Homo sapiens: one gene and its partners. The protein of the gene in region 1 purifies or fractionates together with the protein of each later gene. This does not show direct contact. Each region holds a gene or a part of one and is shown in the gene's direction. Other genes may lie near its edges.

Evidence for each region.
Region 2: the proteins of SEPTIN6 (region 1) and FLNB fractionate together in Homo sapiens (co-fractionation; one large-scale study listed by BioGRID). This does not show direct contact.
Region 3: the proteins of SEPTIN6 (region 1) and CEP72 purify together in Homo sapiens (affinity purification with mass spectrometry, with the first as the bait; one large-scale study listed by BioGRID). This does not show direct contact.

What each region holds. Positions count from the first base shown.
Region 1 is NC_000023.11:119,651,622-119,655,270, reverse strand, and holds part of SEPTIN6 (septin-6), read left to right. Parts: intron 1-2,230; coding exon 2,231-2,417; intron 2,418-3,649. UniProt on the Homo sapiens protein: Filament-forming cytoskeletal GTPase. Required for normal organization of the actin cytoskeleton. Involved in cytokinesis. May play a role in HCV RNA replication.
Region 2 is NC_000003.12:58,147,809-58,151,457, forward strand, and holds part of FLNB (filamin-B), read left to right. Parts: intron 1-397; coding exon 398-556; intron 557-840; coding exon 841-1,044; intron 1,045-2,041; coding exon 2,042-2,194; intron 2,195-2,296; coding exon 2,297-2,419; intron 2,420-3,649. UniProt on the Homo sapiens protein: Connects cell membrane constituents to the actin cytoskeleton. May promote orthogonal branching of actin filaments and links actin filaments to membrane glycoproteins. Anchors various transmembrane proteins to the actin cytoskeleton.
Region 3 is NC_000005.10:615,224-618,872, forward strand, and holds part of CEP72 (centrosomal protein of 72 kDa), read left to right. Parts: intron 1-2,605; exon of another isoform or gene 2,606-2,626; intron 2,627-3,649. UniProt on the Homo sapiens protein: Involved in the recruitment of key centrosomal proteins to the centrosome.

The sequences.
Region 1 (3,649 bases):
AGATAAGCCACCCATTTAGGATTCGTCTACACCAAATCCTGGTGGCTGATTGGCTGGTTTGGCTGGTCTGATCCATGTACATCTTGAGAGCTTCCGAGAGCCAGAGGCAATTGCAGTAAGACAGGCACAGGGTATCACTACAGATTTCGGGGTGTGTGGGGGAGCTAAAAAATGCACTTTTTAGCTTTATTTTCTTTCCTCTGATTCCTTCTGCAAAGCAAAAAATGAAGTAAAAAAAAATTACGTAATTGAGAAAAAAAATGAAGCAGTGCCATCATCAACTATTTCAAATCAGCAAAACATCCAAAAATTAATTAAATAAGCCTAGGGGATACATTCCCCACCCTCACTCCAAATTCGTCAGGAACCTTCTAAGGATCTTTGCAACCAAGAGATTCTTTGATGCGATTACCCTTCGGAACAGTGGCTCGGAGGGATCAAAGGAATAAAGAAAGGACTATGTTTTTAGAGTTTTCTCTGGGGCTTGGGAGGCAGAGGTTGCAGTGAGTGGAGATCGCACCACTGCACTCCTGCCCGGGCAACAGAGCGAAACTCCATCTTAAAAAAAAAGATTTTTCTCTGGGGCTCCAGAGATAGCCTGCACCTGGATCTCAGCTCTGGCTGCAGCTCTCAGAATCTAGGATCCTGTGATTCTTTCTTAAAAGGCTATTTTCCCCTTCTCTACTAGGGGGATCTTTCAGAAAGGCTCAGCCTGGGAGCTGCTGCAGGTGGGAGGCATTGGCTGGGCTCAGCTCCTCCTTTGATCATCATGTTCCCTTCTGGCAGCGGTATCTGAAAACTCCCTGCCCTGGGCCCACATGACAAGCCTCTTCTAGCCTGAAGGGAGGCACCCCCTCAGCCAGAGAGGCAGCAGACAGACAGGGGAGATGAGAACAAGAGGCAGAGCTGAGCTAAGCTGACCTAGTTAGAGCAGAAAGAGGCCGTAGGGGTGACGGGGATGACGTGGGAGGGGACTGGGACAGAGGGAGAGGGAAGTTTCCCAGGGAGGCCCAGGAAAGAGAGACATAGAGGGCTGACTGTTGTTTAAGAAGCCTTGGCAAGACTTGGGGGCCACCTAGAGGAGCCGCGTGTGGAGACTCAGTGAGCTGGCGGGCCTGTGTCCATGTGTGCAGGGTGTGCGGAGGGGAGTAGCTTTACCAGATTTTGCCTGAATACTTTGTTTGTTTGTTTGTTTGTTTTTGGAGATGGGGTCTCACTCTGTTGCCCAGGCTGGAGTGCAGTGGCATGATCTCCACTCACTGCAACCTCTGCCTTCCGGGTTCAAGCGATTCTCCTGCCTCAGCCTCCTGAGTAGCTGGGATTACAGGCATGAGCTACCACAGCTGGCTAATTTTTGTATTTTTAGTAGAGACGAAGTTTTGCCGTGTTGCCCAGGCTGGTCTCGAATCCTGAGCTCAGAAGATCCGCCCGTCTCAGCCTCCCAAAGTGCTGGGATTACGAGCCATGATCCACTGTGCCTGGCCTGAATACTTAAAGTCACCACCTTGGCAGAAATGAGAATCAGAAAAATATCTTGACCTTGGGGGAGCCAAGTGTGGAGCTCCGCTAAACCTAGCGAGAATGAGCAAAAGCCCTGAATGTTCTCACAAGATTGCCCAGCAGTGGGCCAAAGAGAGGTCTTGTTACCCACTGTGTACCCAGCTCTCATCTAGGCACTGTAGGGCGAGATAAAGGGAGCAAAGACATGAGCCCAGCTTGGAGGAAAATCAGTCCCTCTACAGATACAGCCAGTGGGCTCCATGCTGTGTTGGGGCCCCCCGAGGGACAGACAAGTGCCCTTCACAGGCCCTGCTCTTTAGGAAGGCACAATCTATTTGAGAGAATCCTTGTGAAGCAACAATAAGTAATTGAATGCCATTTCTTGTTATGCCCCTGACTCGCAGAAGGGATTTCTGGCATAAGTGGGGAAGGCCGTAGGAAGGAGGAGGACATTAAGCTGAGCCCTGAGGTCTGGGAGGGCAGAATTGGGATGAGGAGAGAGAAAGGGGCATTCTAGTGAAGGTGCACAGATGGGCATAAGTTTGGCTCATGTAGGGACCAAGAAGGTGGCCAGGCTGACAAGATTGGAGGCCCACTGAAGGGAGATGGAGAAATGCAGTTGGATGGGAGAGAGTCAAGATTACAGAGGGCATTTGAAACTTCCAAAAAGGACGGTGTCAAAATCCAAGTTTTTGACGGGATCCGCCTCTGTCCCTGCTCTCCCTTTTAGCTACAAGCCTATCGTGGAATTCATCGATGCACAATTCGAGGCCTACCTGCAGGAAGAGCTAAAGATCCGAAGAGTGCTACACACCTACCATGACTCCCGAATCCATGTCTGCTTGTATTTCATTGCCCCCACGGGTCATTCCCTGAAGTCTCTGGACCTAGTGACTATGAAGAAGCTGGACAGTAAGGTATAGGAGGCAGGGGCGGGGGCGCTGGGGGCTCACTCTTACTGATCTCTTGTGCAAAGTAGATGTGGGATTCCGGGAGAGATTTGTGGCATCCTCATCCTCTCCCTCATTCCCTGTCCCTCCATAAAGATGGTGTTACGGATCCAGCACCAGCGTCGTAAGCTTTGTGATCTGTTTTCCCAGCACTAGGGATGGGCTTGCCCTGAGCTGTCTTTCTGCCCTGATCCCTCTTGGGGACTAGCAAGATGGCTCCCTGGGTCTAGGGGCAAAGGCTTTGGCAATGGAAAGCTGTTTTTTTCTTTGTCCGAATGTTAACTGGCTAGAATCAAACATGCAAACTTGACTTTGAAAGTTATTCTTGCTATCAATAATTACTTTTATGATTGCAGTTAACATTAAAACCCTCATTATATGCCAGCCCCGTGAAGTACACATTATTGTTATCTTCATTTTACAGAAGAGAAAACTGAGGCTCTCAGAGGTTAAGTGACTTGCTCATTGTCATATTGCTAGCTACTGGTAGAGTGCAGATTCTGTGACACTCAGATCTGTGACCCCATGTTATAATGCTTCCATGCCCGAGAAAGATGGCTGTGGGAATCAGGCGTTGTCTTCCTTTAAGAAAAACTTGGCTGGGTGCGGTGGCTCACACCTGTAATCCCAGCACTTTGGGAGGCCAAGATAGGCGGGTCATCTGAGGTCAGGAGTTCGAGACCAGCCTGGCCAACATGGCGAAATCCCGTCTCTACTAAAAATACAAAAATTAACTGGGCATGGTGGTGCGCATTTATAATCCCAGCTATTGGGGAGGCTCAAGCAGGAGAATCGCTTGAACCTGGAAGCGGAGGTTGCAGTGAGCTGGAATCATTCCACTGCACTCCAGCCTGGGCGACACAGCCAGACTCCGTATCAAAAAAATAATCGAATTCACATGCAGCCATTTAGTAGCACATCCACTCTAAGACTGAATTTCAGCTCTCATCAGAATAGGAGCAGTTTTTCATTTTTTGCAGCAATAGGCTCATGGCCCATGAATAAAAGGCTGCTCTTGAAATGTGGCCATGCCCTGCATGTCCTGTATAGGGGCATTGGTGAGCCACATGGCTGCAGGCCTGGTGGATGGGCCGAGTTAAGCCTTTGAGATAGATAGATACATATATATTTATTTATTTATTTATTTTTGAGACGGACTTTCACTCTTGTTGCCCAGACTGGAGTGCAATGGCACGATC
Region 2 (3,649 bases), on another chromosome or scaffold:
ACCACCACACCCAGCTTATTTTTGTATTTTTAATAGAGATGAAGTTTCACCATGTTGGACAGGCTGGTCTTGAACTCCTGACCTCAAGTGATTCGTCTGCCTCAGCCTCTCAAAGTGTTGGGATTAGGCACCTGGCCCAAAGATTCCTTTAAAATGTGGTCCATGAGGACTCAAGTCTCTAGGTCCTGCCAGCTTCTTGTCTTTGCTGCAAGCAGGCATGAATCCCATCATTCTTCATTGGTTGGGTCTACTCAGTGTTCAAGGCTCATTTTTTTTTCACTTAACTTTGTGTAATTAGTTCTTGCGTGTTCATCCGTGAACAGCATATGGCATGGCAGCTCTGTGAAGCCAGGGTAACCACATGTAACGGGAGTCCTTTTTGGGGGATGTTTCCCAGATGACAGCAGGCGGTGCTCCCAGGTGAAGTTGGGCTCAGCCGCTGACTTCCTGCTCGACATCAGTGAGACTGACCTCAGCAGCCTGACGGCCAGCATTAAGGCCCCATCTGGCCGAGACGAGCCCTGTCTCCTGAAGAGGCTGCCCAACAACCACATTGGTGAGCTAGGCTACCCTTCCTGGCTGGAGCCAGGACATCTTGGGTGGGAGATGGGGACTCTTGCAGTCCTTTCTTGGGAATGGGTAGCACAATGGAGTGTGATGTGATAAACCTGCTGGGTCACACGCACGATAAATGCCCAAGCGTATTTGTGCATTGTGATATCGACACTCTGGATTGTTGGGTGTCAGGAAAGAGGACATATTTCTATTTCTGAGAGTGTGTCTCTCTCCTGCTTCCTCTCCGCCATCCCCTTACAAGCCCCAATCTGTGTTCTGGTCCAGGCATCTCCTTCATCCCCCGGGAAGTGGGCGAACATCTGGTCAGCATCAAGAAAAATGGCAACCATGTGGCCAACAGCCCCGTGTCTATCATGGTGGTCCAGTCGGAGATTGGTGACGCCCGCCGAGCCAAAGTCTATGGCCGCGGCCTGTCAGAAGGCCGGACTTTCGAGATGTCTGACTTCATCGTGGACACAAGGGATGCAGGTCTGTGTGGTCCCAGGGGAGAGGCCCAGAGCTTGTGGGAACCGACTTATTTTGCTGAGGCAGCGTCATCTTTTCATCCTACCAACTCCTTTTCCTTTCTGAGCATCCTTCAAGCTATAGGTCCTTCTGCCTGCATTGTCTTTTATGCCTCATGACCATTGGCAAAAATGGGATTGTCTTTGTTTTTTAGATGATGAAACTGAGGCTTGCAAGGTTTAGAGCCCCCTCTGCACTAGGATCTGAACCCAGAGCCACAACACCTCGCAAACCCCTGTTTTCTTATCTGCTCTCCCACCCTTGTTCTCAGCTTCCCAGCGTCTCTCCAAGCAAAGAATGTTGGGTTGATTGGCCAAGACCATGGTCATCTGAGCAGAGCTTTTGTGGAAATGAAGCATCTCTTTCTGTTTTCTCTTTGAGATGGTTTGAGTTAGATTGTGTCTCTTCCAAGCTTGCCACACCCCAGTGCCTCCAGTCATCTGCTTTCTTGAAGGATGGCCACGCTGGTGAATTCTAGACAAATTCTAACCCGGGGAGAGGGCTGGAGAATTTCTGGTCCTGGTTGGGAGATACTCCCTGTTAAACCTTCGGATATGCTGACCTAGCTGAGGTAGCCAGGGGCTATTTAAAAATTCAAAATCTCAGATCTGGCTGTGGATAAACCCCCAAGGTGGTACGTGCAGTACTTGGAGGCGTGAGGGCAGAAGGTCCTCCCCAGCAGTTTGTACGGGACACATCATCTATGGGATATTAGTAAATATCCTTAAGGAAAGGCTTCTGTGGTCAAAACCAGGTTCAGCAGGTTATTTCACTATGGGGCTTCTCAGGACGCTTAACCTACTCATCCCCCTCTGGGCTTTGCAAACGAGGCCGCCATTGCTTTCTTTCTGCTATGTAGAAATAGATTGAGGCGTAAGGGTCGGATGTCCTTTCTCCATTCATCAGGCTCCCTCTTCCTGAGGAGCTGCTGTCAGAACAGCCTGGGGCTGCTGTGTTGCAGGTTATGGTGGCATATCCTTGGCGGTGGAAGGCCCCAGCAAAGTGGACATCCAGACGGAGGACCTGGAAGATGGCACCTGCAAAGTCTCCTACTTCCCTACCGTGCCTGGGGTTTATATCGTCTCCACCAAATTCGCTGACGAGCACGTGCCTGGTATGTGCATTCCATTCCCCTCCAGGTGGGATGCTTGGGTTTTCTGTAAATGCTGTGCCTTGGCCTCTGGCCTGCTCACAGGAGCCTTCTTGGGTCTTGCAGGGAGCCCATTTACCGTGAAGATCAGTGGGGAGGGAAGAGTCAAAGAGAGCATCACCCGCACCAGTCGGGCCCCGTCCGTGGCCACTGTCGGGAGCATTTGTGACCTGAACCTGAAAATCCCAGGTGGGCGTCGGGGACTAGTAGGGTGGGGAAGCCTTGGCTCCAGCCTTCAGGGCAGTGGGTGCCTTTGGGAACCAAGTTTAGGCATGGCCCAGAACACAGTATCCAAGTCGGCTGTGCTGACCTTTTCATTTCACTTCATTTCATTATGTTCTTCTATGTTTATTTTCACAGAGTCTCATCCAAGAAAAACAAATGTTTACCTTGCTACCTTTTTCCTCTTCCAAATAAAAATAGCTTTATTGTGTCACATGGGGGAAACGTAGATATGCTTTTAGATTTTTAGATTAACTATCTGTCAAATAGAATCATGTCAGTGAAAGAACTGGCCCTGCCGATGCCAGGGTCTGGAAGTATTTAAGAGGTGGCAGCCCAGCGGCATCCTTCTAGTATTTCTCTTTCATTCCTGAAATTAGAACGAGGGCTGTGCTGCAGAACTCGCTGGGCCACATCTAGCCCTTTGGTGGTGAATTGTTCTTCTTGGGCCCCGATTAGCCAGTCAACAGGTCACACAGTCTGTCTGAAATGTGTTCCAAGTTCTTTCTATAAAGAATCCTTCCAGAGGGAAGCCACTGTGAGTGAAAATTTTGAGGCTCCTCTGCCCAGAAGTTGGCATGTCCTGTGGAATTGCACAAATTCTACAGAGAAGGGAAATCTAAATCGTCTTCAGATGGAGCTTGTGTTGCGAGCTCTGGAGAGGGGGTTGTCTTTCTACACTGCATCTCCCATCCTTCCTAACGAGTCACGGAGCTGTCGACTCCGCCTTCTTGGCTTTAGTTAACAGGTTCTTCTTGTGTAGTCACATCAACGTCGGGTCACATGGGAATGTGGTAAAGCCTCATTACTGTAGAGTTCAGACATGATCACTTAAAAAGAGCTTTATTGGGCCGGGCGCGGTGGCTTACTCCTATAATCCCAGCACTTTGGGGGGCCGAGGCAGGCAGATCACCTGAGGTCAGGAGTTCGAGACCAGCCTGGCTAACATGGCAAAACCCTATCTCTTCTAAAAATACAAAAATAAGCAGGGCGTGGTGGCGGGCACCTGTAATCCCACCTACTCAGGAGGCTGAGGCACAAGAATTGCGTAAACCTGGGAGGTGGAGGTTGCAGTGAGCTGAAATTGCACCGCTGCACTCCAGCCTGGGCAACAAAGTGAGACTCCTTCTCAAAAAAAAAAAAAAAAAAAAAAAAGAGCTGTACTGATCGTTTGTAGTCATAAACAGTTCGTGTGCC
Region 3 (3,649 bases), on another chromosome or scaffold:
CTCCCGGGTTCACATGATTCCTCTGCTTCAGCTTCCCGAGTAGCTGGGATTACAGGCGCCTGCCATCACGCCTGCCTAATTTTTGTATTTTTAGTAGAGACGGGGTTTCACCATGTTGGCCAGGCTAGTCTCGAACTCCTGACCTCAGGTGATCTCTGCTGGGCTCCCAAAGTGCTGGGATTACAAGTGTGAGCCACGGTGCCTGGGCCTTGTTCCTCTTTTTTCCTGGTAATTTTCTTTGTTGAGACATCTGTCTTATTTGATATTACTGTTGTTACGGTAGCTTCTTTTGATTGGTTTTTGCATGGCGTATCTTTTCCTATCCATTGCTTTGAACTTTTAACCTACCTGTATCTTTATATTTGAAATTAGTTTCCTGGTTCATTATTTTTATTCACTCTGCTAATCTCTGTCTTGTAGTAGTGTTTTAGGCCATTTACATTTAATCTAATTGTTAAATATTAGAACTTAAGTGTGCCATTTTATTGTTTTTTGATTGTTTCCTGTGTTTTTTCTTCTGTTTCCCTTTTCCTGCCTGCTGTGACTTACTCGAATATTTTTAGTATCTCATTTTGATTTATCTGTTATGTTTTGGTGTATATCTCCTTGTATGGTTTTCATAGTGGTGGCTATACAAATTACAATGTATTTATGTAATTCAACACAGTTTACTTGTACAGGTATTTTACTACTTCTAAGTGAAATATAGAAACTTTATCACCATTTAGGTCTCTATCCTCTCCCCTTTACAATTTAGTTGTCTTAAGTATTTCCTCTGCATACCTTGAGAACCGTATTAATATTATGATTTTTTTTAAATACCTAGCCTTTTCAGTAACTCAGGAGGAAACATATTTATCTGCATGTTTATCTGTTCTGTTATTTTTTCTTCATTCCACGATGCTCTAGGTTTCTTTCGTTTTTCCTTTATATTTGAAAAAATTTTTTCAGCAGTTGTCTTAGGGCAGGTCTGCTTGTGACAGATTCTCTTAGTTTTTCTCTACGGTTTTACAGTTTTCATCTGTCATCTCCATTTTGCTATTAAACTGCTCTTGTGATTTTTTGTTATTGTATTTTTCTTTGAAATTTCTATTTGTTTCTTCTTTATATCTCCTGTTTCTTTGCTAAGACTAGTTTTTCCTTTGTCTCAGGTGTTTGTAATTGCTCATTGAAGTATTTTTTATGACAGTCACTTTAAAATCCTTGTTAGACCTAAGTTCTGTGTTCTCTCTTGGTGGTATCTGTTGATTGACTGTGTTTTCTCATTCAAATTGCCATTTTTCTGGTTCTTGGTCATTTTTTATCATATTGTGGACATGCTGGGTATGATGTCATGAGACTCTGCTTCCTGTTTAAATCCCCTTACTTGAGAAGACTCCTCACTCGAGCCTGCTGGGTGCCACCTTGTTGCCGGGACAGTCATGGAGCTCCTGCCTCACCCACGGCCTCTGGCAGACCCTACTGGCTGGGAGAGTGAAGGGCACCACCTCGTTCTAGCCAGGCCGGGACAGCAGTCAGGATCCATTCTCACACCCCGGTGCTGGCTGCTGCGCAAGGCCAGGTGGACGAGGGGTGTGTGTGTGTGTGTGTGTATGTGTGTGTGTGTGTGCGCGCGAGTGGGGGTTTGCTTGCAGGAGGGCTGATGATGTGAAGAGAGTCTGTCCTGCAAGGCCCCTCCTGGTGCCAAGTGGACGAGGGGTGTGTGCGTGTGTGTATGTGTTGTTGTGTGTGTGGGTGGGGGTTTGCTTGCAGGAGGGCTGATGATGTGAACAGTGTGTGTGGTTGCAGGAGGGCTGATGATGTACAGAGAGTCTGTCCTGCCAGGCCCCTCCTGGTCCTTTGGCCATCGAGAGCAGGCTTACGGTTTTTGGTCTTTTTGTGTTTCTGGGCTGCCGACTTCTGTGGCACCCAGAGTGGGATGTGTAGTAAATAAGCATAAACAAAACCCCAGAGTCAAGCCAGGGACTCAGCGCTGGGTTCTCTCTCGAGTGCCGAGGCCCCTGGCTGGTTGGCTTCTGTTCCTTTCAGTCCCCCAATGCTTGTTCCGTATATTTTCCTCCAGGGCAGTGGGTCTAATATGCGGGAGGAGCAGGTTGAAATGTGTCCTCTCCATGTTGCCTGGAACTGGAAGAGCTCAAACCAAATTTTAAACTTAATCAGAACATATTCTGGTTGGGTGTGGTGGCTCATGCCTGTAGTCTTGGGAGGCCGAGGTGGATGGATCACCTGAGGTCAGGAGTTCGAGACCAGCCTGGCCAACATGGTCAGGAAACCACAAGACTGTCACGGAAACCCTTTTCTTTCAGTAACATGAGCCAAAGGTCACTGCACCTTGTCCCCTCCTGACCCTGTCCCGGTGGCAGGGTGTGGGGGACAATGAACTGCTTGTCTGTGTGCCTCCAAGTGGGGCAAAACCAGGCAGCATCCTGCTGTTTAGCTGCACCTGAGACGATGCCTGAGGGCTACCTGAGGAAACAGGGAAACGTGGGGTTTTAGCCGGATGTGGTGGCGTGTCCCTGTAATCCCAGCTACTCAGGAGACTGAGGCGGGAGAATCACTTGAACCTAGGAGGTGGAGGTTGCAGTGAGCCGAGATCGCACCACGGTACTCCAGCATGGGCAACAGAGTAAGACTCCATCTGAAAACAAAAACAAAAAAACCAAAACATATTCTAAAACATAAATGTTCCCAGGAAAGTATTGATGTATTCGGATCTAAACTGCCTTTTTGATTACGGAAACTTTCATCTTGTAATTAATGTTGATGTAGTGACTGCTTATGGGGTGCGTGGAGCTTGCACAGCCCGACCACAGTTGTAACAGGAGGACAGCAGACAGGTTACCCGACGAGTGGGTTTCAGATGGTGATGGCTGCAAGGGGTGACAGAATTGAGCAGCCAGAAGTGGAGGCGGGAGATGAAGTAGAGGGGTGTTCCTGGGGAGAGACGGTTTTGGAGGGAGAGGCAGTAAAGGTGGGAAGAAGCGTGTGGGCTTGGAGGTATTGTAGAGATAAACATAAGCCGAAACTTCAGGTACGTTCCTTGCTCGTCAGTGCTGATATTCCAACTCCAAAGGAGTTGCACTGAGTTCTAGGTGCCTCTTTCAGATTACGAGGATACATATCTCTCTGAGAAAAGCTGAAAATACAGAAATGTGTAAGAGGGAAAATAAAGGGATTTATTCCACAATAGGACACATGTGTTAAAGTTTGTCTTTCAATCTTTTTACATATACTGTTAGAGGAAGAAATGTTTTGAATGACCCTTGTCAGGCACAGTGAGGAAGGCTTTATTCAGAACCATTGAGGTGGGCCTGGGGCCACTGCGCTGGGATTTTGCAGTGGGGGAGAGAGATGGAGCTCAACTCCAAGTACAGCAGGGGCCGGGGGGAGTTTATAGCCTAGGGTCAGGGTGGGGGCAGTGGATGGAAAATGACTGAGAGGACACATGAGGAGTAAGGGGATTTGGGCTAAACCAACTGAACAGGATTATTGCGAAAGAGAGGCCAGGGTGAGCAGACACCACCTATGGGATCTGGGGATGAGGAACCTGAGCAGATACTGAGGGTGGGGGTTTTGGCCGCACTAAACTGGACTTTACAAGGAAGGGCACAGATGGCCGAGGAGAAGATTCAGGAGCCTGAGTAAAGTT